Homo sapiens: one gene and its partners. The protein of the gene in region 4 purifies or fractionates together with the protein of the main gene of each other region. This does not show direct contact. Each region holds a gene or a part of one and is shown on either strand. Other genes may lie near its edges. The genes, in order: MAN2A2, TOR3A, DNAJC3, GALNT7, NXPH1 and KLK15.

Region 1 (3,500 bases), on a different chromosome or scaffold from region 4:
TGCTAACTCTGGGTCCCCACCCCTGTCCTCCCAGAGTCACTCTGATCCTGCTCATCACACCAGGACATGGAGTCTCTACATAACCACAGGATTCCCCTAGAGCCTGCTGTTGCCACAGTGACCCTGATGCTGGGCTGTTACCCACTTAGCCTCCCTTACCTCTTCTGTCTGCTTCCACCACTTCTATATCCCTGTTTGGAAAAAGGATGGGTGCCTGAGCCTGTGCCCAGTTGGGTGTCCACTCACAACCCAAAGCAGAGCCTGGCACTGCCCACTCTGACCAAGGGCCTTCTCTCCCTGATCTCACTGGCGTCTGCCCTATTTACCCATCACTGGGTTTGTGGGTTGCGCCGAAAACACAGCAGCAGCAATAAACAGAAAATGAGGGCAGAGCCCAGTGTGTCACAGTTCTGGGAGGCAGATCGGGATGGGATACCCGTGTGGCTTGTCCAATGATCTTCATGTTAAGAGGCAGTCTCTGTGAATGAACTTTCTCTTCAGGCCACAAGAAGCCCTAACCCAAGCGGAGGCGAAAGGTAGCAATCTCCATGGGCTCCAAATAGACGTCAGTGCTGTTGGACGGGGAGGCCAGAGGGTACAGTAACGTCAAGGAGGTTGGCTGAAGGAATACCACATCCAGGCCATGGAAAAGGCTGCCCAGGGCTACCTGTGGAGAGCAGAGAAGGGGCAGGGTTGTGCTAGGTGCCGAGACACTAAAGAATGTGGCTGTTCATCTACAATTTGGTACCTCTTTAAGAATCTCAGCCAGGGGCAGTGGCTCACACCTGTAATCCCAGCACTTTGGGAGGCCAAGGCGGGTGGATCACCTGAGGTCAGGAGTTCGAGACCAGCCTGGCCAACATGGCGAAACCCCGTCTCTACTAACAATATAAAAATTAGCTGGGCGTGGGGGCAGGCGCCTGTAATCCCAGCTACTCGGGAGGCTGAGGCAGGAGGATCACTTGAACCAGGAGGCGGGGGTTGCAGTGAGCTGCGATCACGCCACTGCACTCCAGTTCCGGCTGGCCCCTCTCAGCAACACCATGCCTTCTTACACATGAGTGTGCATCCAGTCTCACGGGCTTGCTGAGATTTGCTCAACCCTAAAGCCTGCCTACAGATCTCTGGGTAAGAACCGTTCCACTGAGCTGTGAGCTCTGTGAAAACAGTGACCATGTCTTGGTTCACTTCTGAAACACTGGAGCCCAGCAGAGGACCTGGCACCCGGGGACATTTATCAGTGCCGGCTGATATGAGCTTACAAAGTAACAACAGGATGGGTTCTGGTTTTCTATTTCTGGTGTTTTCCACTTTGCTTGATAGAGGTCCCTGCTCAGGGAACAAAAGTTCTCAAGCGATCTACCTTGTCTGGAACTCCCCCTGCCAGGCCTCCGGAGCTCTGAAAACATGTCTACAGCTTCCCCCCTTCTCTCCAGAAAGCCCTGGAGTGACACTTTCTTCTCCCAGCCTGTCACCGAATCTCAGCCCAGTCTTACCAAGCTCATGCCTGCCATTCCTAGGTGCTCTGTTTCCCCACCCTACTCACCTTGCCTTGGCTTGTGGTGCAGTTGAAGCCCAAGTTCTTGGCCTCCAGGCCGCAGTCAAAACCCTTGCGGTGTAAGATGAGTGCGGTCTCCGCCGAGGGTAGGGTGTCCTCCTGGATGACAGACAGTGCCCAGGGAAGTGGGCGCAGGGCTTTCAGAGATCGGAGATGCAGCAGCGCCTCTGCCCAGAGGCAGTGCTGGCACAGGGAGGCGTGTGGGTAAGGAAAGGCCAAAACCTGGTCCTGGAGGTTTGGAGCCGAATACCTGCTAAGGGGTCTGGACCTCATCCTGGAGGCTAAGGAAGGAGCTGAGCAGGGAGGGACACCATCAGAACTCTGCTCTCAGCATGTCACGCTGAGGGACACTCACCTCAGCCTGGAGCGTACGTAGGTTGAGCAGGTGGAAGTCACAGGGCAGTGAGGAAGCCAGAGGATGAAATGAGCGCAGACCAGGGCCTGGGAGCTGCATCCTGGCTACAGGCAGAGCGAGCGCCGGGGCGTTCAGGTACATGGAGGTCAGGTGGCTGAGGAGGGATGGGTAGCTGGTAGAGTGGCTATCTTGGACCTGCAAAATTGACCCGAGATATTGGTGAGGGACCAAAGCCAGGCTGAGGGGAGAGGACGAGGCAGGATAAAAGCACACCCAGGTCAGTTGTTTTGGAAAGACCTTTCCTGGTGTGCCTGGACTCAAGGGCACGCCTGGCTCCAGGCGAGGTTCCGCTAACCCTTCAAGTGTGGACATTTGCCGTCTCCCCTAACGCAGAGGGCTACTTCACTAAGCTGTTTCTTCTCTACTTTTTAGTTCCTTGCTCACATAACACTATCATGAGCAACCCACTCCCATCAGCCATGTCTCCCCTCACACATGGATCCACAGTGCAGGGAGGATGGCAGCCAGGCAGACGCAGGCCTCACCATGGAGCACGGACCTCCAATCCAGAGTGCTCTGGGTAATCTGCGGCTTCACGAGCGATGCCACATCCACAGTGCCAGCCTGGCTCTCAGGCCCAGCGCGGCCGGGGCTCTGCCAGCAGGGCTACTCCTTAGCAGCTCACCTGGACGTCAGACTCACAGGCCTGGGCTGAATATTCTGGACTTCTGTCCCTGGCATCCCCCTTCTTCCAAGCGCCCAGCATCTCTCACTTCCCTCTGCATTCCCAGGTAATGCTAAACCCTCTTCCGTCGCACCTGGGCAGTGTCCTCATAGCCACCGGCAACTTCTCCAGCCTCTGGCCTAGTTCAAGCAGCCAGCATGTCCTGCCTGAACAGCCTCCCGCTGTCACCCTCCTCCAGTCTCCCTTCCCACAGATCCAACCTGCTCCGTACTGTCAGCGTGACATGCTGAGACCAGAGTTCTGACGGTGTCCCTCCTTGCTCAGCTCTTTCCTTAGCCTGGACCTTTCCTAGCCAGGATAAAGTCCAGATCCCTTAGCAGGCACTCAAGGTGCTCTGCCGTCTGCCCTGATCTCCCCCTAGCACTCTAGCCCAGCACCAGCCAAGAGGGCATTCTGCAAGGATGGAAATATCCGACACCACATGGTCTAATACGGCAGCCACTTAGCCACTTGAGTACTTGAAGTGTGGTCAGTAGGAATAAGAAAGCAAATTTTTTACTTGATTTAGTTGTAATTTAAATAGCCATATAGGGCTACTGGCCACCGTACTGGATAGCATAGCTCCAGCATAACTAAGGAACTCACTGCTATTCCCCAGCCTGTTGTCTTTCCTGCCTCCTATCCTGTGCCCTGGTTCATATCTTCAAATCACACCCCATTCATCAAAGCCACACCTGGGTGACACCTCCTTGACCTCGATCTCCTTAGCCCACATTATTACCTTGCTCCTCAGGATCAGTGAGACAAAGCCCTTTCTACCTTGCATTTTTACACACATGGCTTCTCTGCCACCCCTACTCACGAGTAAACTCCTGGGAGAGTCAGCACTGTCTGCACTTATG
Region 2 (3,500 bases), on a different chromosome or scaffold from region 4:
TTCCTTCAGCCTTGGAAGTCTGTTTCTTCTCCGATTATGAGAAGTCATCACTGGCTTAAAATCCAGGGTATACGGGTTGAGAAACCCATGCTTCCTCTGAGTACCTGTAGTTCAGTTGTGACGCTACCATGCGGGACCCAGTCACTGAATCACTGCACTGAGGTTCCTGTGCTTTCACTGACATCTTTGCGTGAAGCCAACTTAGAAATAACTTGTCCAACCTCATCTTTTTGCGGAGGCTCCAACTGGGGGAGTCCTGTGTCTGTTACAAGTCAAGTTTGGGCCCTTGTTGACCCAATTTGAAGGCTTCACAACAGCTCGAGCCTCGGTAGGAGTCAAACTGAGTGCTCCCTTCCCAACTCCACTCCGGCCTCGCCTTCCCCAGGCCAGCACTTGCTTGCTGGGGGGGTTTCCCAAGCTGCAGGGCTCACTTTGTGAGGATGGGGAAGTTGGTGAGGGGATGCTGATTTTCATCCTAGCTTGGGGAGTGTGGAGGGGTGAAGGGTTGAGCTGTGGAGGGCAGATCTAGTTTCGGTGTGGATTCACAAGAGGAAGTGAAACAGGGTCCAGGCGCAGTGGCCTGTCTACTAAAAATACAAAAATTAGCTGGGTGTGGTGGCAGGTGCCTGTAATCCCAGCTACTCGGGAGGCTGAGGCAGGAGAATCACTTGAACCTGGGAGGCAGAGGTTGCAGTGAGCTGAGATCACACCATTGCACTCCCGCCTGGGCAACAAGAGAGAGACTCCATCTCAAAAAAAAAAAAAAAAGTGAAACAGGTTTAAGCCGTTGCTGGGTTGGGATTTCTGTGTAGTGGCGGGAAGCCCTTCCTGGTCTGCAGGTGAAGCTGTGGAGACTTAAAATGCATTGCGAAGTGGGAGGGGAGTGGGGCGCCCAGGGTGATTTTTAAGAGGAGAGAGAGATCTCTTGCATGATTTGGGTGCCCAGAACCAGGAGGTGAGGACAATACATTCTTCCAGTTAGTTCTTATTCCCACGTTCTGTACTATTTCCCACCTTCGGAGGCAGCCGGGCTCACCTCTCCTCCTGTTACAGAGAGTCAGGTGGGGGCTGCAACATGCAGATGAGCCTGAACAGAGGAGTCACCTGGGTGCTCTGTGGTTTCTCCACCTGAGCCCTGGGTCGGGCAGTCCAGGGGACCCTCTGAACCACCGATGCGGAAGCCAGTCCTTCCCACGGCACGGAGCAAAGCATGGTGACCCAGCCTCGGGCCTCCCTTTCGCTTCCACAGGGATCTCCCTTGCGCTGAGTGTCTTCCTCCTCCCTCTCCCCGAGACAGGGGTCTCCCGGCTTCAGGTGGTGCCGGCCACACAGACTCTCCCACCCACTTCTCAGCTTGGAAAACCTCACCTGGGCCGTGATTGCCTAACGTGACCCGGTGACCCTGCAGTCTCCAGGCAAATGTTATAGCCTTTGTAGTATTTTGGCCGTCGACCTGACAGCACCACCCTCCAGCTGCCTGTCCTTTCCCCCAGTGACCCAGCCTGGGTGGACTGTCCGAGGCCATGTGGTTGTGGGCGGGGTGGGGGGGGGGGCCTGCGGGAAAGCCGCCTGCCAGACTCCTCCATGCCACAGCAGGGTGGGGAGGTCCCCCAGGAGCCTTTGACAAGGATGTAAAGGACACATTAAAAAGATGTGGCCTTAGGTTCTAGTGGCTCTGGTGTGGGCCTGTGCCCAGCCTTTACGAGCCAGAGGTTCCCCCCTCCAGCCGAGGGCTGGGCTGACATAGTCTGTGCCCAGGCTGTCCAGGGCAGCAGCCTCTCAACCTCAAGTTCTCAGGTAGTCCAGCGATGGCTGGGAGGAGACACACTGTTGATATTGGAGTCTCTGGACTTGATTTCTATAATGAGCTTCAGTTAATCATCCACTGTAATAAGGATTCTAGGGCATGAAAGAAAAGCACAGCTGATTCAAACTGCTAGAGTGACCAAGTCATACTGCACGAAGGAAGAGCAGCAGTTTAATTCTGAAATAAATCCTAAACCTGCTGTTTGAAGTGAGTTGCCAGTGGCTTTGCTGGCTTCCTCCTGGTGGCAGGAGAGAGGAGGTGGGAGCTGAAGCAGGGAGTTGAGTGTGGTGCTCAGAGCCTGTCCTTCATCCGGGCCAGGGAATTGGGGCCGGTGACTGGGCACCAGGAAAGTAACATTACTTCGCCCACTTCTGCCAAGTATAGAAGGCTGCAGGAATGGGCTCACGTGGCAGGACAGGAACGTGGAACTCTGCGATCGGAGCTGCTGCCCTGTTCTCATGGGAGCTGTAAAGTGACAAGGGTAATTAAAGCCTGTTTCCTTTGTGCTGTTGTCAGGAAAAGGATAGAAAGGACTTTGAAAAATTACAGAACTACACAAATAGAAATTATTTGTGGAGTCGTGGTGGGCCTTGCGCTCCAGCCCCCAGTGTCTGTTGGCTGCCTGTTGACTAATGAGAGGACAGCTTAGATTGGTCCAGTCCTGACTTTATAAATGAGAACACTAAGGCTCAAAGAGATGACTGAGTCTATGTCTGTTCTTTAGGAAAGATGTAGCAGTTAGCATGGGGTTTGTTACCAGTAACAACCAGTTCTCTGGTGAGGCCTGAAGTCCCCTTCCTTTGGGGTCTTAGGGATAAGGGCTGGTGAGATCAGCCCTGGCAGGGGCTGGAGACGGGGGATGAGGGCTGGTTGAGAGAGGTGCCCTCTGGCCCCTCCAGACTTCCCAGCGATCCAGGTCAGCAGATGAGCTGGGAGGCTGTGGAAGGGAATTGAGGTGCTCCAGAAAGACAGTGTCTGTCTAAAGGTAGAACGCTGGTGCCAGAGTGGTGGTCCTGAAGATGGGAGGGGCGGCGCGTAGAGAGGGGCCCCAGGTTATGGGTCAGTGGGTGAGATTAAAGCCTCTAAAGTGGTGGAAGAAAAGGGACTTTGGCTATGGGACAAAACAGGAGAGATTGAGAAGGGTGGAGATGGTGCAGACACATGTGCAGAGATGTCCCTTTATTTACTAAAGGCTGAGTGCCTGATACGCACATAGCACTGGGGTTACAGAAATAAACAGGCCAAGCTTCCTGCCCTATGTGATGGGACCTCTCTTTACCCATGTAAGCACCTTACAGAATGGAGAAGGCCCTGGAGTCCATGCCCCTAGGATGGGGTGAGGGAGTATCACTCTGTGGGGTTTCACAGCACCCTGGATCCTGCCTTCCAGCCCCTGCCAAGGTAAACAGTGCTGCCTGCCTCCTGTGGGGAATGCAGGATGGGGCAATGCCCTGGCAGCAGGGTCTTGCCTCAGCTGATGCAACTGTGGCTGCTCCTGTGTGCACAGATCATGTGCCTGGAAGGCCTTCCTGCAGCAGGGGCAGTGTCAGAAAGTGGAAGAGTGGTGTGAGCAGCTTCCCCGGGGAAAGCCTGGCTGAGCAACTGACCTTGAGCAAGCACTGCAGATGGCCCTTGTTCCTGCCGGGCTCCTCCAGCTGGGAGCTCTCAGCCCCTGGTAAATTCTGGCAGTGAA
Region 3 (3,500 bases), on a different chromosome or scaffold from region 4:
GGGTAATTTATAAAGAAAAGAGGTTTAATTGGCTGACGGTTCTGTAGGTTGTACATGAAGCATGGCTGGGGAGGCCTCAGGAAATTTACAATCATGGCAAAAGGTAAAGGAGAAGTAGGCACATCTTCACATGGCCAGAGCCGGAGGAAGACAGAGAGGGGGGAGATACTGCACACTTTTAAACAACCAGATCTTGTGAGAATTCTATCACAATAACAGCTCTGGGGGATGGTGCTAAACCATTAGAAACCACCCCCATGATCCAATCACTTCCCACCAGGCCCCAGATCCAACACTGGGGATTACAGCTGAACATGAGATTTGGGTGGGGCACAGATCTAAATCATACCACCCCACCATTACACAATATACCCATGTAACCTGCACATGTATATCTTGAATCTAAAATAAAATAAAGTTAAACAAAAAAAAAGATTCTGCCCTCAAATGCTGGCTCCTTTGTGAAACCTTCCCTCACACTGTATTGTTTTGAGAGAGGGAAAAAAAGCTCCTTCAATCTTCCTATATTTTGCATTTCCACACTCAGAAGTACATGACTTCACTTTGCAATATCACTCTCTCTATATATTGCTTTTCACAATTTGCCTGCTTCTCAAAGTCCCAACTCCACAAAACTTATCAAAAGCAAGTTTGAGAGGAGGAGCTGTCTTTTCTTCTTTGTATCACCTAATTCAGTATCCCGCACATAGTGGGTATGCAATATTTGTTGAATGAATTTAACTATTTGCCTTTTTACTTAAACGTATTATAATTCATCAGAATAAAATCTAAAATACATAACAATTATCAAGTCAAACATATGATCAATGATTCATAAAGACACATCTGAAAAATCAAATTATTTGCGAATTATTGGCTGTTTTTGCAATCCACTCTCTTTTGAGCCACAGGTAATTTTTATTCCTTTGCCACATGGTCTGTAAACATTATTTTCAGAGAGGTAAGACAACCAAACATCATGCCATTTCCTAATCAGCATTAGACAATAGGTTTCTCCTTAGACAAGCAGTGATCATAAGTCAGCAAAATAAGCAGCAAGGGCAGGGAAAAAGGTAGAGTAGCCAACTATGTCTTTCACTGAAATTAGTATTAGAATATCTTATATTTTGGAGAGCAGAAAATAAGGATTTTTTTAAACTTAAAGGTGGGGGGTTAAAGGTATGACGTGAGTTACAATCAAGACTGGAAGAACCAGACTAAAGGAGGCAAGAACTCATAGTCAAAGATACTAAAGTTCAAGCAAAGGCGGTGGCAGACCCAGACCAGAGAGCAATCCCAGAGAGAGAGATGGTTATTCAGGTTGGAGCACTTAGAATATGAGGAATGAGGAAAGCCCTAAGTTTCTTCTCTAAAAAAGAACAGAAGGCTAAGCCAAGACTCTAGCAAGGTGGGGTAGAGTCTAAAAGAAGTCTTGTAGCAGAAACACAGAAGACAGTGGAATCTAGCCAAAGAAAGATAGTACAGGAAGTTCAGCATCTACTATTATCTGAATGTTCTCTCCAAAATTCAGGTTGAAATTTTTTTTATAAATTACTCAGTCTGTGGTATTTTGTTATAGCAGCACAAAGATACAACTGTAGGAGCAACATTTTCAGAAGGTGAGAGGAAATGGAATCCAGGGTGTAAGTACACAGATTAGATTTATCTGGGAATAGAGACATTTAATGTATTTCAATATGAGAAAAAGTAGCAGAATAGGTACAAATGTAGATAAGCTAGTGAATTTTGAGGTAGAAAGAAGAACTTGCCTTGTGATGGCTTTCATTTTCTCAGTAAAGACAAGGTCTAAAAGAATGAGGTAGGGGAGAGAGGAAAGGAGAGTTTAAATTAGAGGCTTCAGAAAGGAGGAAAATGTTTGAAATATTGATTTTCAAGAATAGACATAGTAAAGAATTGTGGGAGTGTTAGCAGTATTTAATGTGCATTTGCGACTGAGATTGTTTCTTTAAAATGAGACTAATCAGGGCCAGGTGCATTGGCTCGTGCCTGTAATCTCAACACTTTGGGAGGCCAAGGGATGAGGATTGCTTGAGCCCAGGAGTTCAAGACCAGCCTGGGCAACATAGAAGACCCTGTCCCTACAAAAAATTTTAAAAACTTAGTAGGGGATGCAGTGGTGCATACCTGTGGTCCCAGCTATTCAGGAGGCTGAGATGGGAGGACTGCTTGAGCCCAGGAGGTCAAGCCTACATTGAGCTAGGATCATGCCACTGCACTCCAGCCTGGGTGACAGGGCAAGACCTTGTCTCGAAAAAAAATTGAAAATAAAAATAAAGATAAATGAGACTAATCAGCAAAGTTGTCTCCATTTTCCTCCGTCCGTGTTTACCTATAAGGTATAAAAACAGTTGGCCAAGTTGAATTTAACCAGTGTTGGGTTTTGGCAGGTGAGTAAAACAGAAGATTACAGGGGCCAGAAAATAAATGGGCATTTGCAGTACACTAACTACAATAATGGACCACTCAGTCTAAAGCGGGAAAGGAGAAAAAGAGGACGTGAATGCTTCACAAATGCATGTCTTAAACCCTAAGTGGTCTGTAAACTCAAAAGCAAAAGCCATGAGTTCTATGCTACGTATATATACCTCACCAAAGAGCAATATAGTTAGTAAAAGCCTTTGCTGACTGATTAAATGAGTCTTCTCCATATTCCAGAACTCCAAATGATACAAACTCATCAGATTTAATTTTTTTAAGTAGCTTTCTAAAGATATGGAAAGAAAAATAAATCTATGGTTGAAATGTTTGCGTTCTGAAGAGCAGGTGAATGGGTTCCCATGATACTTCCATATAAACAAAGATTAACTGCAGGACACTAATCAAAAGAGACCACAGCAGTAGAAATTAAACTTAACAACAATTAATTAACTTCATATGGGAAAATAAAACCTAATTACTACAGTGCATCCCCTCCCAGAACAACTTCCCCTACCTCACAGAATGAAAACCACTGCATTTCCAGGCAGTTTCTCAGCAAATACTAACTATGTCAAGAGAACTGGAACTTTGATACTACTGCTAACTACAGCCTATCTTATTAAAGAATTTAAAATAATTCTAGAAAATATGTGACCACCTTTTATGATACTTAATTTATTTAAATTACTTAAAGTCACTCATTTTTGCTACTTTATTCTTTCCCTATTTAGATAATGTCAAGAAAATCCTAGAAAAGACAAAACATACCTTTAATAGGTTAGGTTCAAATAAAACTTATCATGGTTCAAATAAAACTTATCACAATATTTTATACGTATAGATTTTCAACTATATATTTTCAACTATTCTTTTCCCCATGGCCAAAATATATGGTTTAATCAGCTCAATGAAATAAAGAAAAATTGGGTCCAGATAGCATGTTAAGGAAGAAAAAGAGATAAAACTATGATAAGAGAAAAAAGGTTTCGTTCCCAGGCTGTGTTGCTACTCAAGTCACCAAGAGGACAAACCATTAGCAAAGAAATGAAATAACTTCCTTA
Region 4 (3,500 bases):
ATTTTTCAAATTCAACTATTTCAATGACAGAAATTTTAATGGATTAAAAATTCATGTTTATTTTCCTCCAAAAGTTGTTTTTTTTTTTTTTTTTTGACTTAATGGTTCTTTGTCTAATCTTAAACTGTTAGTGTTCTTCAGGGTTCTGTTATTAGTCTATTTGTCATTCCATCCTCATTCTAGGTTATTTCATTCTCTTCCAAGCTCAGTGACCAGTTTTATAGTGATCACTGCTACATCCATTTCCCCAGCCCGTATCACCTTTCTGAACTCAAAACCTTACAGGCAACTTCTTCCTGAACATTTCTATTCATATCTCTCTAGTACCTAAATTTAACATACCAAAAACTGAACCTATCATTCACCTCACATCACAAGCCTGTTTCACTGACTGTCTCCTTACTTCAGGGACTGAAACCACCATTCACTCAACTGATGAAATCCAAAACCTGCAATCACCCTCAACTTTTTATTCTCTTTTATCTACCCTTCTGACATCCAATTAATCATAAATTCCTGTCAATTCTATCACCTGTGTAGAGCCTCCATCTGGCCACTTCTTTCTATCATCCTCACTGCTACTGCCTTAATTCAGGCACCCTCACCTCTGAACAAGATTACAATAGGAATAATAGTGATGATGGTAAACACTGTGTCCTAAGTGCTTCACATACATTAACTTATTCAATCCCATGAGTTAGGTACTATGATTGCCATGTCTATTTTATAGATGGGACATCTGACAGGGAAGTTACCTAAGATTAGAATCAGTATGTAGTAGAGTCAAAATTTCAATCCAAATAGTCTGGCTCAGGATCTACACTCTTAACTACTATGACCTAGTGCTTCTCGCCCTGACACATACTTCCTACACAGCAGCCACAGGGACTTTTCTAAAATTCATACATCAACATGTTTCTTTCCCTGCTTACCATATTCCAGCAGTAGCCCACTGCCCTCTGGAGAATACACACTCCTCAAGGGGGTTGGCAAGGCTTTTCCAGTTCTAGACTGCATTTATGAAATGTCTTCAGCACTATCCATGAGAGAGGGGTCAGCAAACTTTTTCTTCAAAGGGTTAAGTAGTAAACATGTTTGGCTTTGCAGACCACAGGGTCCCTGTGGTAATTATTCAAGTCTGCCTCTGCAGTGTGGGAGCAGCCATAGACAATATGTAAATGAATGGGTATGGCTGTGTTCCAGTAACCATGTATTTACAGAGACAGGTGTTGGGCTGGATTTGGTTCCCTAGTCCCTGCACTAGACTGTAAGTTCTGTGAAAGTGCAGAGGCTATGTCCATCGTACGCACCACTGCATGCCCAGTGCTTATCCTGGCACATAATTCCTCAATAAATACTCACTGAATAAATGAATGAATCCTAAAATTTCTGCTTTGGTGGTAAGATAGACTCCGAAAAGAAAAGGGGAGATAAAGAATGGAAAATACAAAATGGGAGAGCAGGGCTTAAATCAGATAGACCCGTACTGGCAATACCTTATGAATTCACCAAGAACATAACTCTATATTCCCTACACGGCACTGTACTTTTAATAATGCCATATAATAGCACCAGAAAAATTGAATTTGCTCACTTCTCAGAGGCTGCATGTCATTAAATCGGAAGGCAAAACCAAATACAAGAATTGTCTGTCTAACCCCAAGTCAACTAAGAATAATCACATCAAATCTTAATTATATGATTCAAACAACGGCTATAAAGTGGTGTAATACTTTACTCCCCTGAGGAGGAAAGCTACATACTCCTCCTTTCTGAGAGTGAATGAGAATCAGTAGATGCCTCTGTGACTCACTGGTACAATGATACCTTCGTAAACACCAGCTGATCCACTCTACAGCCCAAACTAATGAATCACTGTTAAACAGAAATGGAAAAGAGGATGAGTAGATAATTTTCCAAGATCAGTATGTTCATAAAGGTGGAAATGGACTGAAAAATATAACCACTTATCACTGGATGGTAATATGGATTACCAGAAGTAAGGTCAGGCTAGTAACCATCCACCTTACAACTTACAAAGTGCCCCTTCTTACCCCCAAATCCTGCTTATATGTAATATTTTTCCAAGATGGCCATGCCTTGGTAGAGATAATATAAATCCAAAGGGATTTAGAAAAATGGTCTTTAGAGCAAATGACAGTAACATAGGCTTGTTTGAATTTGAAATCACAGGTGAAGCCTAGAAAACTAAGCTTTTAATGATGAGCTTATGCAGTCACATGATCTCTTGAGAAATGATGACTTAGCTTTAGGAAAGGGCCACTGCTTGAACAACATGCACACTACTTGGTTATCATGCTTCATGAGCCACAGAATTTAAAGGTATAACAAGCCAAACTTCATTCTGTGATTTTAACTCTCTTGATCAAAAACACCTTTCTTCAGAAAAATCCTATCAGCATCCTTTCTCTGGCTGCAGTTACCTAAAAGGAGCAGAAGGAATGGACACAGAAAGCAGAGAGGGAGGTGGTAAAAATAAATAAGCTCCAGAAATTCAGAGGGAACAAGGCGTGCCAGTAGGCTGGGGCTCCCCAGACTCTCACCAACATGTGGCAGGATGTGGGTGGGAATGTGGAGTGCACCAGCCTCAGTACCCTTCTTTCTCTCTGCTTAGTTACAGCTGGATGGACTAGACATTTCCGGCTGACTGAAGAGCTCCATGTCTTGCTCCTTTCAGAGCACTGAGCGATGACTGCATTGGGAGCTGCAGCCCTGCTGGGCATGGTCAAGGAATTTGTGCTTAATCAGGGCTTAAAATGGATAAGCCCAAGATTAAACAGAGACCTTACCAGTCCTTAAATATCTAGAATGTCATCCATACAGGAAAGGACCCATTTCCAAGTATATTTTAATATCCCTAAACTAGAAAGAGATTGAAGGCCACTTTCCAATGGCAATGCCTCTGTTAGCAACTAGGGCAGAACTGAAAATGGATGAAGCATGCTTTCAGGTAACTATGGAAATATAAAAATTCTATATAAGCTCTAGGTGTGGCTTAAAGTATGATATTCTGGTAAGAATTATCTGCTCAAAGAAATAGACCCGCTTAGAGGAATTGCTATTCTTCTTTATCTTTTTTTTCCCTTTCTTTAAGTATCAGGCCAAGATATAAACCAAAGGGTAACAAAATAGAGAAAATAGTAGAGTTGACATCATAATGCTCCACTAAAAGAAATCAAGGTCAGCAACTCTAATACTGTATATTAAACTTAAGCAGGGTAACCAGGCTGAGTACTACACAGTAAACCAGTTCGTCCCAAAGTTACTTTACAGATTGAAACACTGGGACTCTTGACAATGGAGTGATGCCTATTATGGAATAGCTAATAGTTATATCTTTTATTTTTATCTCAAGACTTCTAATATACTATGGTAACTGCAGTTACAAGTGGGCAAGTCTGTGAAGCAGTTTTAGCCACCTACTGGGAAGATTTTATCGGGTTTCTAAGGGGGCATTTTGAGCCAATTAAATGCCACCC
Region 5 (3,500 bases), on a different chromosome or scaffold from region 4:
TGAATCCCGTATGTATCTAAAAGGCTGGTCTGTAGTAGAAGAGTCAGGAAATGCAGTGGAATGAGAAACTTTTAGTACTGCCTCCAAGAACTAGCCTTAATAGGGAACACTTAATAGCCACTGTCAGGAAATTTATTTTATTTTGTTTATTTTCAGTAATAAGCTCAAATTGATTAGAATTTTCAGTGTGCAGCTGGCTTAATTTTTAAAGAATGAGAAGCACACATACCTAGTCCAAAGAAAAGACATTGCTGGTCTCTCTCCCTCTGCTTTTCCCCCAGCTCCAATATACCTTAACAGCCATCTTCATAATGAGTGGATTTCACCCAAATGATCTAGCTTTTAACAGTGCAGAGGTAGTGGTCCCATAGATACATTAATTACTCTCCAAACTCTATTAAACAATTGGTGTAGAATTCACATTTTAAGGATATCCCAAATTTGAGAGAATAGATGGCTCATAATGTGGCACAAGTTTAGAAAGGATTTTTAATTCATGCCTATTTTGATTTAAAAAGCAACTTGATTATTAGCAATTTAATTCCTAGCAGAAATGGTGGGACCCCTTCTCATTAGAATAGAGCTGTGGATGGGTGACTAGTCACAGTAACTTTATACAATGCCTTGTCGGATGCATTGGATTCAATTTCTGAGTAGCTTTTTCATTAGCATGCTCAGAAAGTGCTCATTAGACTCACCTCTCTAACTGAGAGTTACCACAGGTGAGCCCCCAAACAGAATGCCACACCCTGTGGGAGATGCTTTCCTGGTGTCCTGGCCTATCCTTCTACTTGATCCAATGAGGCTGATTCAAGTTAGAACCCCCACTCTTCAGAGCAAGGAACCATATTTTTCTAGCTGATTCAATATATGCTTCAATAAAGTTAAAATGCTATCATCCTGCCATCCCATTGTATCATACTGAAAATATCCTGGAATTGGTCCAGGAATAATAAGAGAATAAAGATTGCAAAACTTTTTTATTATTTTTAATAAGCGTTGTTAACCATAGACTTCTCTCCTATTGAATTCAGGCTTTTAAATCTGCAATACATAACATTCAATAGTCTGAAATTTTATTTACCTTTATTTTTAAAAGTTAGTTTCCCACCCCCATGCATTTATGGCTGGAGCTTGTCCTGTGGTGGATTTTGAGTATTCCAGCTAACATGCTTCAGAAGGTAACTCTGTGGGCACATATCTAATTAGTTTCCCATTAAAGTACTAAAATAAGCTTCTATTTTGAACTAGGACAGACTTGTCTCTCAAAAAACACAAAAATCCTCAACCTAAAGCATTCAAAGAATCCCGGGCCCAGAAACATACTTTGCAAACATTCACCCAAATACAGGTAGGAAACTGTGGCTTGGTGTGGGGCATTGACCTACTGCAGAGTTTTCATAAGAAGTTATTCTCAAATTTGGGGGTATTTAAGGTATTCACTTTAAACAGAAGCCTAAATATTTCTTTAGGAGATAACTAGACAAGTCTTGTTTCATGGACTTAATGTGGTGATTACTCCCTGGGAAACATAACTAGGATACCATGGGCTTAAAGGTCAAGGTGCACTGAGATATCAGCTAAGAGGTAAGGCATAAACAGAGTGATGCAGGCACTTAACTAGTGGTGTGAGCTCACAAAGACAAAAATTATCCATCAAATTCTTCCCTGGCTTATGTCAGTTCAAGAGAAAATTAAAATAATGGTTTTGCCACTCTTGCCTTCTTTGAATGTAACTTAAAGCAGCTCCTGACAATCTGTATGCATCCAGTGCAGGTTCTTACAAAGGGATAAGATCTTCCAATGTGCAGCTACAAACAAATGATCAATCCAGTTAACTGTATCTGGTATTTAATGAAATAGATGAAGAAAGAAGCCTTGATCACTTCTTGATCGGTTCATTGCCCTAGAGTTTTAATCAAGGCTCTCTACTTCTTTATTTGCCTAAAACCATCCCGAAATGACTGCCCAATTCACCCTTTTAAATTCATTTCCATGGTAGAAGTCAGCTTTTTGCTCCTTCAGGAAAACAGCTCGGAATTCTGCTGGCAAATATCCATGGGATTACAATCCCTGGAAATACTGCCTTGGGTCACAGCCATCAGCTGTAGTTTTTGTGGTGCATGTGGTTTCTAGTCCCCGACACACAAAAGTACTTTAGATTGGAGAAAAAAGAACGGACTTCTAAATAGCCTTCTCTATTTTATTGTTCACATTTCGTATTGTTTTGAGTGAAATTGGAAAAATTGTCTCCTTTCTCTGTATTGCCAAAAGGCATTCAGGTAATGAAGTCTGTAACTAAACGGTAATTGAATCAGCATAATTTGCACACTGAATGGTTTTCAAATGCTCCCAGTTTACAATTAAAGGAGAATTAATGCGCTTGTTGTTGAGAACGCAGCGCATTAGAATAAATCCAGCACTGTTGTTGTAATGAGTGGAAAACGGTTTAACTGCCAACAAACACATTTAAAATTTAACACAAAGTATTGATTTCACTTCTGCTTTTGATAGATTATTTTCCAGACTATCGAAATACTTGCTCCAAGCAATAAACTGCACCATAGCCACAAGCCCTTGCCGTGTGTGTGAGCACAGCCCAAGGACGTAAGAACAGTCCTCAAGTTCAGGTCAGGCGTAAAGGTATGCAGAGGAAAAGGGCAAGCGGGTTACGATGGTCAAGGGAATCCTTAAAATTACCTCCCCCCCGCCCCCGTCGCTTTCACTTTGCATTCCCTCCCCCCATCTCTCAATAAAAAAATTCTATATTTCTTCTGGCCAAACTTTCTGCCCTCCATCCATGGTCTCTCAATGTCAGTGGGCTTACTGAACACAGGTGGGGGTGAAAATGATTGAAGATGGGAAATGGGAAGGACACTTTTTGCATTCCGCCTGCGTTCCAGCGGGTAAAGGCACAGACTTCGGTGACAGAGTCAGAAAGGCTGTTCTTTTGGATTGGCTGCCCTGGCTTTCACCTGTTTACCCCAAGGTGTCCTGTGGGCGAGGACGCTGATGCGCAGCGCCCTCTGGCGTCCGCGGCTGCTACGGTCAGGCGATAAAGGGGCAAAGACAGGCAACATTGAGGGTTCTTGGATTGAAGCTGAAATCGGTTAAATACACATTCACACACACATATATATACGTGTCACTCACATACACAGAATTCACACAACTCGCAGCTTTGCAGCCACATGCACCAGGGCAACGGCCGAGAAACGCTGTCAATTGTAGGGATGGCAATTCTTTCAGGCTTATGGGTTCTATCTAAGGCTCTTGGGATTGAGGAGCGCCAGTATCACCTCCAATCAGAGGTGTAGCCCATCAGAGAGTTCGGGCTGCTTTAGCGCACCTCACCCCTAGACAGAACATAGCGAGCCCTCGGTGCACTCCCGCAGCCCAGGATGGGCTATGGGGGTCGGGACACTGAACACAACTTCACCAGCAGGGCACAAGTGTCCCTTACCCCCATTCCCCCATTCCCACCCCAGAAGCCAGACCTG
Region 6 (4,116 bases), on a different chromosome or scaffold from region 4:
GTTGTGGCCGTCCCTCTGAGCCACAGCCCCTTCCCTTGTCAAATGAGGTCGGTGGTGCCCACCACACATAGACGTTGTATGTAAGCTCTAAGCACCGTGCCTGGCTTGCACACCTGAAGGGGCACTACCTGGGCCAGGCTTATGCTTCTGCCTCACACACAACCACATTTAATCCCCTCAAAGACCCTGTAAGAGACAGGGAGTGGCAGGTGTGGGACTCAAGCTGGAGTCTGTCTGTGCTGTTGGCCTCTCAGCACTTGTCTAATGCTTGCTATGTATATTACCTCTGTTATGCTATTGAGACCTCACTGTTATTGTCTCAAGTGGGTGCTGTCTTATAGAGAAGGCATTCGAAGCCCAGAGAGGTGAAGCAGTTCCCTCAAGGACACACAGCAAGGAAGCGGTTGCCCCAGGACTCAGCTCAGGTTTGTGTAACCCCAGGACCGTGTTCCTTGTCGTGGGCAGCGAGAGGCCCCAGGCAACATAGCGACTCCAGAGCAGCAGCACCAGCACCTGACGGTAAGGGCTTAGGGACATTGGCACAGGTGGAGGGTGAAGGAAGGATCTTTAGTGGTCTCTGGGTGAGGTAGGGGCTGGCAGATCACTGGGCCCAGACATGCTTGGGAAGGGGGCACCTGCTCCCACAGACCTGGCCCCCTCCTGGGGCCACCTCACCTGTGGATGCCAGCAGGAAGGAGAGAGTGAGGAGAAGCCACATTGTGGAGGAGGGACCAGGGTTCGGCTGCAGTCTGGGGAGGGAGTGAGAGAATCCAGGTGAGGCAGGACCCTTCTGCCTCCACCAGGATCCCTCCAGACACAGACTTATCCCATCCACTGTTAATAAATTTCTTCTGACCACCGGTATCCCCTTCCCCCAACCCCACTCTGCGCTTCCTTCTGGGTCCCCCATCTCTGGAAGGTTTACTCTTCCTCTAGGCACTCGGACAGACCCTGCCCCACCTCCTCCACCTGTCAGCCTCCAGCACCATGCTACCAGCCCCTGGATCTCTCTCCATCATCACCAAGGACCCCTGTCCCAACTTTTTTTTTTTTTTGAGACGGAGTCTCACTCTGTCACCCAGGCTGGAGTGCAGTGGCACAATGTCGGCTCACTGCAAGCTCCACCTCCCAGGTTCACACCATTCTCCCGCCTCAGCCTCCCGAGTAGCTGGGACTACAGGCGCCCACCACCGTGCCCGGCTAATTTTTTGGAAATTTTTTTTTTTTAAGTAGAGACAGGGTTTCACCGTGTTAGCCAGGATGGCCTCAATCTCTTGACTTCATGATCCACCCACCTCGGCCTCCCAAAGTGCTGGGATTACAGGCATGAGCCACCGCGCCTGGTCTATCTCAACCCTCTTATCTGGCCTTTTGGGTCCCCCTCCAGTCCAGTCCCCTCCACCAGCTTGCCCTCCAGCCATGACCCCAAAGGGTCTTTCTACATCTGGAGCTGGCTGTGCCCCTCCCCTGCTCACCACCCTCCATGGATCCTTGGCACCACCAGGATAAAGTCCAGCTCTTCAAATTCACTTTCTTTCTTTTTTTTTCTTTTTTTTTTTTTTTTTTGAGACGGAGTCTGGCTCTGTAGCCCAGGTTGGAGTGGAGTGGCGTGATCTCCGCTCACTGTAACCTCTGCCTTCTGGGTTCAAGAGATTCTCCTGCCTCAGCCTCCCAAGCAATTGGGATTACAGGTGTGTGCCACCACGCCCAGCTAATTTTTGTAATTTTAGTAGAGACGGAGTTTCACCATGTTGGCCAGGCTGGTCTTGAACTCCTGACCTCTAGTGATCCACCCGCCTCAGCCTCCCAAAGTGCTGGGATTACAGGCATGAGTTGCCTGGCTCCAGCCTCACTTTCAAGGACAAAAGTGGCTTCTTCCCTTCCAGCCCCTCTCCCTGGGTCTCCCATGACCTTGTCCTAGACGCAGCCAGTGCTGCCATTTTCCCTCCTGCCATTTCATGCTTAGGCTATTCCTCCCACCGCATATCCAACGCCATTCCCTTCCAGCCCCGCTTCCTCCTTGAGGCCTTCTCTGACCTCCCCTGACCCTCAGTGGTGTCTGCCTCCCCTACGAGACTGGCAGCTCCCCGAGGAGCTGGTCTGACTCCACTCTGGGTCTCCAGTACTGCAGGGCCCGACCCACGGGAGGCCTCAGGAAGCTTTGAGGGTGAATTGAAATCCTTCTTCCCCATATCTTCCAAATTCATCTTTGTCCTCTGACACTCTGCCCCCACCTCTTCTGGGAGGCCCCAACACCTAACAGGTGTCTCCCCTGAATCCCACAGCACCCATTCTGTCTCCATTACAGCGCAGATGCCCCATACTTGCTGAGGTCTGGCCTGTTCTTTTCTCCATCTGGGGGTCTTGAAGATGGGGCTCAGGTCAGGTTCTTTCTGTGACCTCAGCACTGCCCCACCTGGGGCCTGGTACACAGGAGGCCTCCGGGAGGTTGTGCTGAACTGACTTGAACCCGTGATCACTCCTGACCACGTTCTTGGCTCTGATACAAGTACTTCAGGGACGTCCTCCTGATCCACTCCATCCCCCTCCCTCCCCACCACTGCAGCTCCTTCTGGCCATTCCAGGACATTTTCTTGGTTCAGGTTCAATTTGGGGCATTGGTAAAGGACACGTGGATCTACCCATGCCCTTGACACTCAGTTCTCCAAGCGTGGTCAACGTTTCCCCTTGAAACCAGGGCACAGTGAATCTCCCCTTTGCCCCTCCCTCAGTCTTGTCTCAAAGCTCTCACCTCCTCCAGATCCTCCAGCAGCATCTAGGGCAGCTTGGGTGCCAGAAGGGAGCAGGTACCAGGATGCCTGAATTTATAAGCTCCCAGTCCCAGCTGGGTCTGGGGGTGTGGTGGTGTAGGGTGGGGTGGGAGGTGGCTGAGAGTCAGGTTTACAGGCAGAGACGCCTTGGTTGCTGGTGGGGTGGGAGACTTGGCCTAATGAGCATTTATTAGGTTGAAGCTGTTGTCTGAGTCCACAAAGAGGAATTCTCCACCAGGAGCAGTTCCTCAAGGGGGAGGGGACAGGAGGACAAAAACAGAAATTAGGAGGAGATCAAAAGACAGAGTCTGGAATTTGGGGTCTGGAGTGTGGAAACTGGATCCTAAAGTCCCTGTTCTTGGGCTTGGGGCAGAGTTCTGGATCCCGGGTTCTGGATCCGGATCTGGTTCTGGATCTGGGTCTTGGATTCTGGATTTGAGGATCTTGAGTTGGAGATTAATGACCTGCAGTCTGGAATATGGATTTCAAAGTCTGAGTTCTTGGGCTGGGGGTCTGGAATCTGGATCCTGGAGTCGGGCCTTTGAGTGACAGATCGTGAACCTTGATTCTGGATCCCGGGGCATTCGAATCTAGAACCCACAATAGGAGCCTGGAATCTGGTGTTTGGAATCTGGCAATCGAGGCTGGAAACCTTTGCACCTGCTATGAGAAGCCTGGGGCCTAGACTACAAATGGTAGATTTGGGATTTTGAATTGTGGGGTCTGGATTCTTTTTTTTTTTTTTTCTGAGATGAAGTTTCGCTCTTGTCACCCAGGCTGGAGTGCAATAGCGTGATCTCAGATCACTGCAACCTCCACTTCCTGGGCTCAATAGATTCTCCTGCCTCAGCCTCCTGAGTAGCTGGGATTACAGGCGACCACCACCACGCCCAGCTAATTTTTATATTTTTAGTAGAGACAGGGTTTCACCATGTTGGCCAGGCTGGTGTCGAACTCCTCATCTCAAGTGATCCACCTGACTCAGCCTCCTAAAGTGCTGGGATTACAGGCGTGAGACACCATGCCAGGCTTGGGGTCTGGATTCTACAGGGTGGATCTAGCCTCTGAGCTTTCAGGAGTAGACTTTGGAACATACAGTCTGGAGTTTCAAATCTGTTTTTGCATTGAAAACCTGGACTGTGGCTGGGCCCAGTGACTCATGCCTTTGGGAGGCTGAGGTAGGAGGATTGCTGGAACTGAAGGGTTTGAGACCAGCCTGGGCAACACAGCAATACCTCATCTCTATGAAAAATCTAAATAAATAAATAAATAAGTAAATAAATTTTTAAAAGGCTGAATTGAGAGACAGGGACCTGGCTTTCACGATTCTGAGATTGCTAGAATC

The links.
Region 1: the proteins of GALNT7 (region 4) and MAN2A2 purify together in Homo sapiens (affinity purification with mass spectrometry; 2 studies listed by BioGRID and IntAct, with this or other methods). This does not show direct contact.
Region 2: the proteins of GALNT7 (region 4) and TOR3A purify together in Homo sapiens (co-immunoprecipitation; one large-scale study listed by IntAct). This does not show direct contact.
Region 3: the proteins of GALNT7 (region 4) and DNAJC3 purify together in Homo sapiens (co-immunoprecipitation; one large-scale study listed by IntAct). This does not show direct contact.
Region 5: the proteins of GALNT7 (region 4) and NXPH1 purify together in Homo sapiens (co-immunoprecipitation; one large-scale study listed by IntAct). This does not show direct contact.
Region 6: the proteins of GALNT7 (region 4) and KLK15 purify together in Homo sapiens (co-immunoprecipitation; one large-scale study listed by IntAct). This does not show direct contact.

Annotation. Positions count from the first base shown.
Region 1 is NC_000015.10:90,916,802-90,920,301, reverse strand, and holds part of MAN2A2 (alpha-mannosidase 2x), read right to left. Parts: intron 2,109-3,500; coding exon 1,914-2,108; intron 1,658-1,913; coding exon 1,547-1,657; intron 668-1,546; coding exon 515-667; 3' UTR 1-514.
Region 2 is NC_000001.11:179,088,570-179,092,069, forward strand, and holds part of TOR3A (torsin-3A precursor), read left to right. Parts: intron 1-3,500.
Region 3 is NC_000013.11:95,680,139-95,683,638, reverse strand, and holds part of DNAJC3 (dnaJ homolog subfamily C member 3 precursor), read right to left. Parts: intron 1-3,500. UniProt on the Homo sapiens protein: Involved in the unfolded protein response (UPR) during endoplasmic reticulum (ER) stress.
Region 4 is NC_000004.12:173,241,811-173,245,310, reverse strand, and holds part of GALNT7 (N-acetylgalactosaminyltransferase 7), read right to left. Parts: intron 1-3,500. UniProt on the Homo sapiens protein: Glycopeptide transferase involved in O-linked oligosaccharide biosynthesis, which catalyzes the transfer of an N-acetyl-D-galactosamine residue to an already glycosylated peptide.
Region 5 is NC_000007.14:8,436,609-8,440,108, reverse strand, and holds part of NXPH1 (neurexophilin-1 precursor), read right to left. Parts: intron 1-3,500. UniProt on the Homo sapiens protein: May be signaling molecules that resemble neuropeptides and that act by binding to alpha-neurexins and possibly other receptors.
Region 6 is NC_000019.10:50,830,775-50,834,890, forward strand, and holds the start of KLK15 (kallikrein-15 isoform 4 preproprotein), read right to left. Parts: upstream 2,801-4,116; 5' UTR 2,753-2,800; intron 750-2,752; 5' UTR 719-749; coding exon 676-718; intron 520-675; exon of another isoform or gene 325-519; intron 1-324. UniProt on the Homo sapiens protein: Protease whose physiological substrate is not yet known.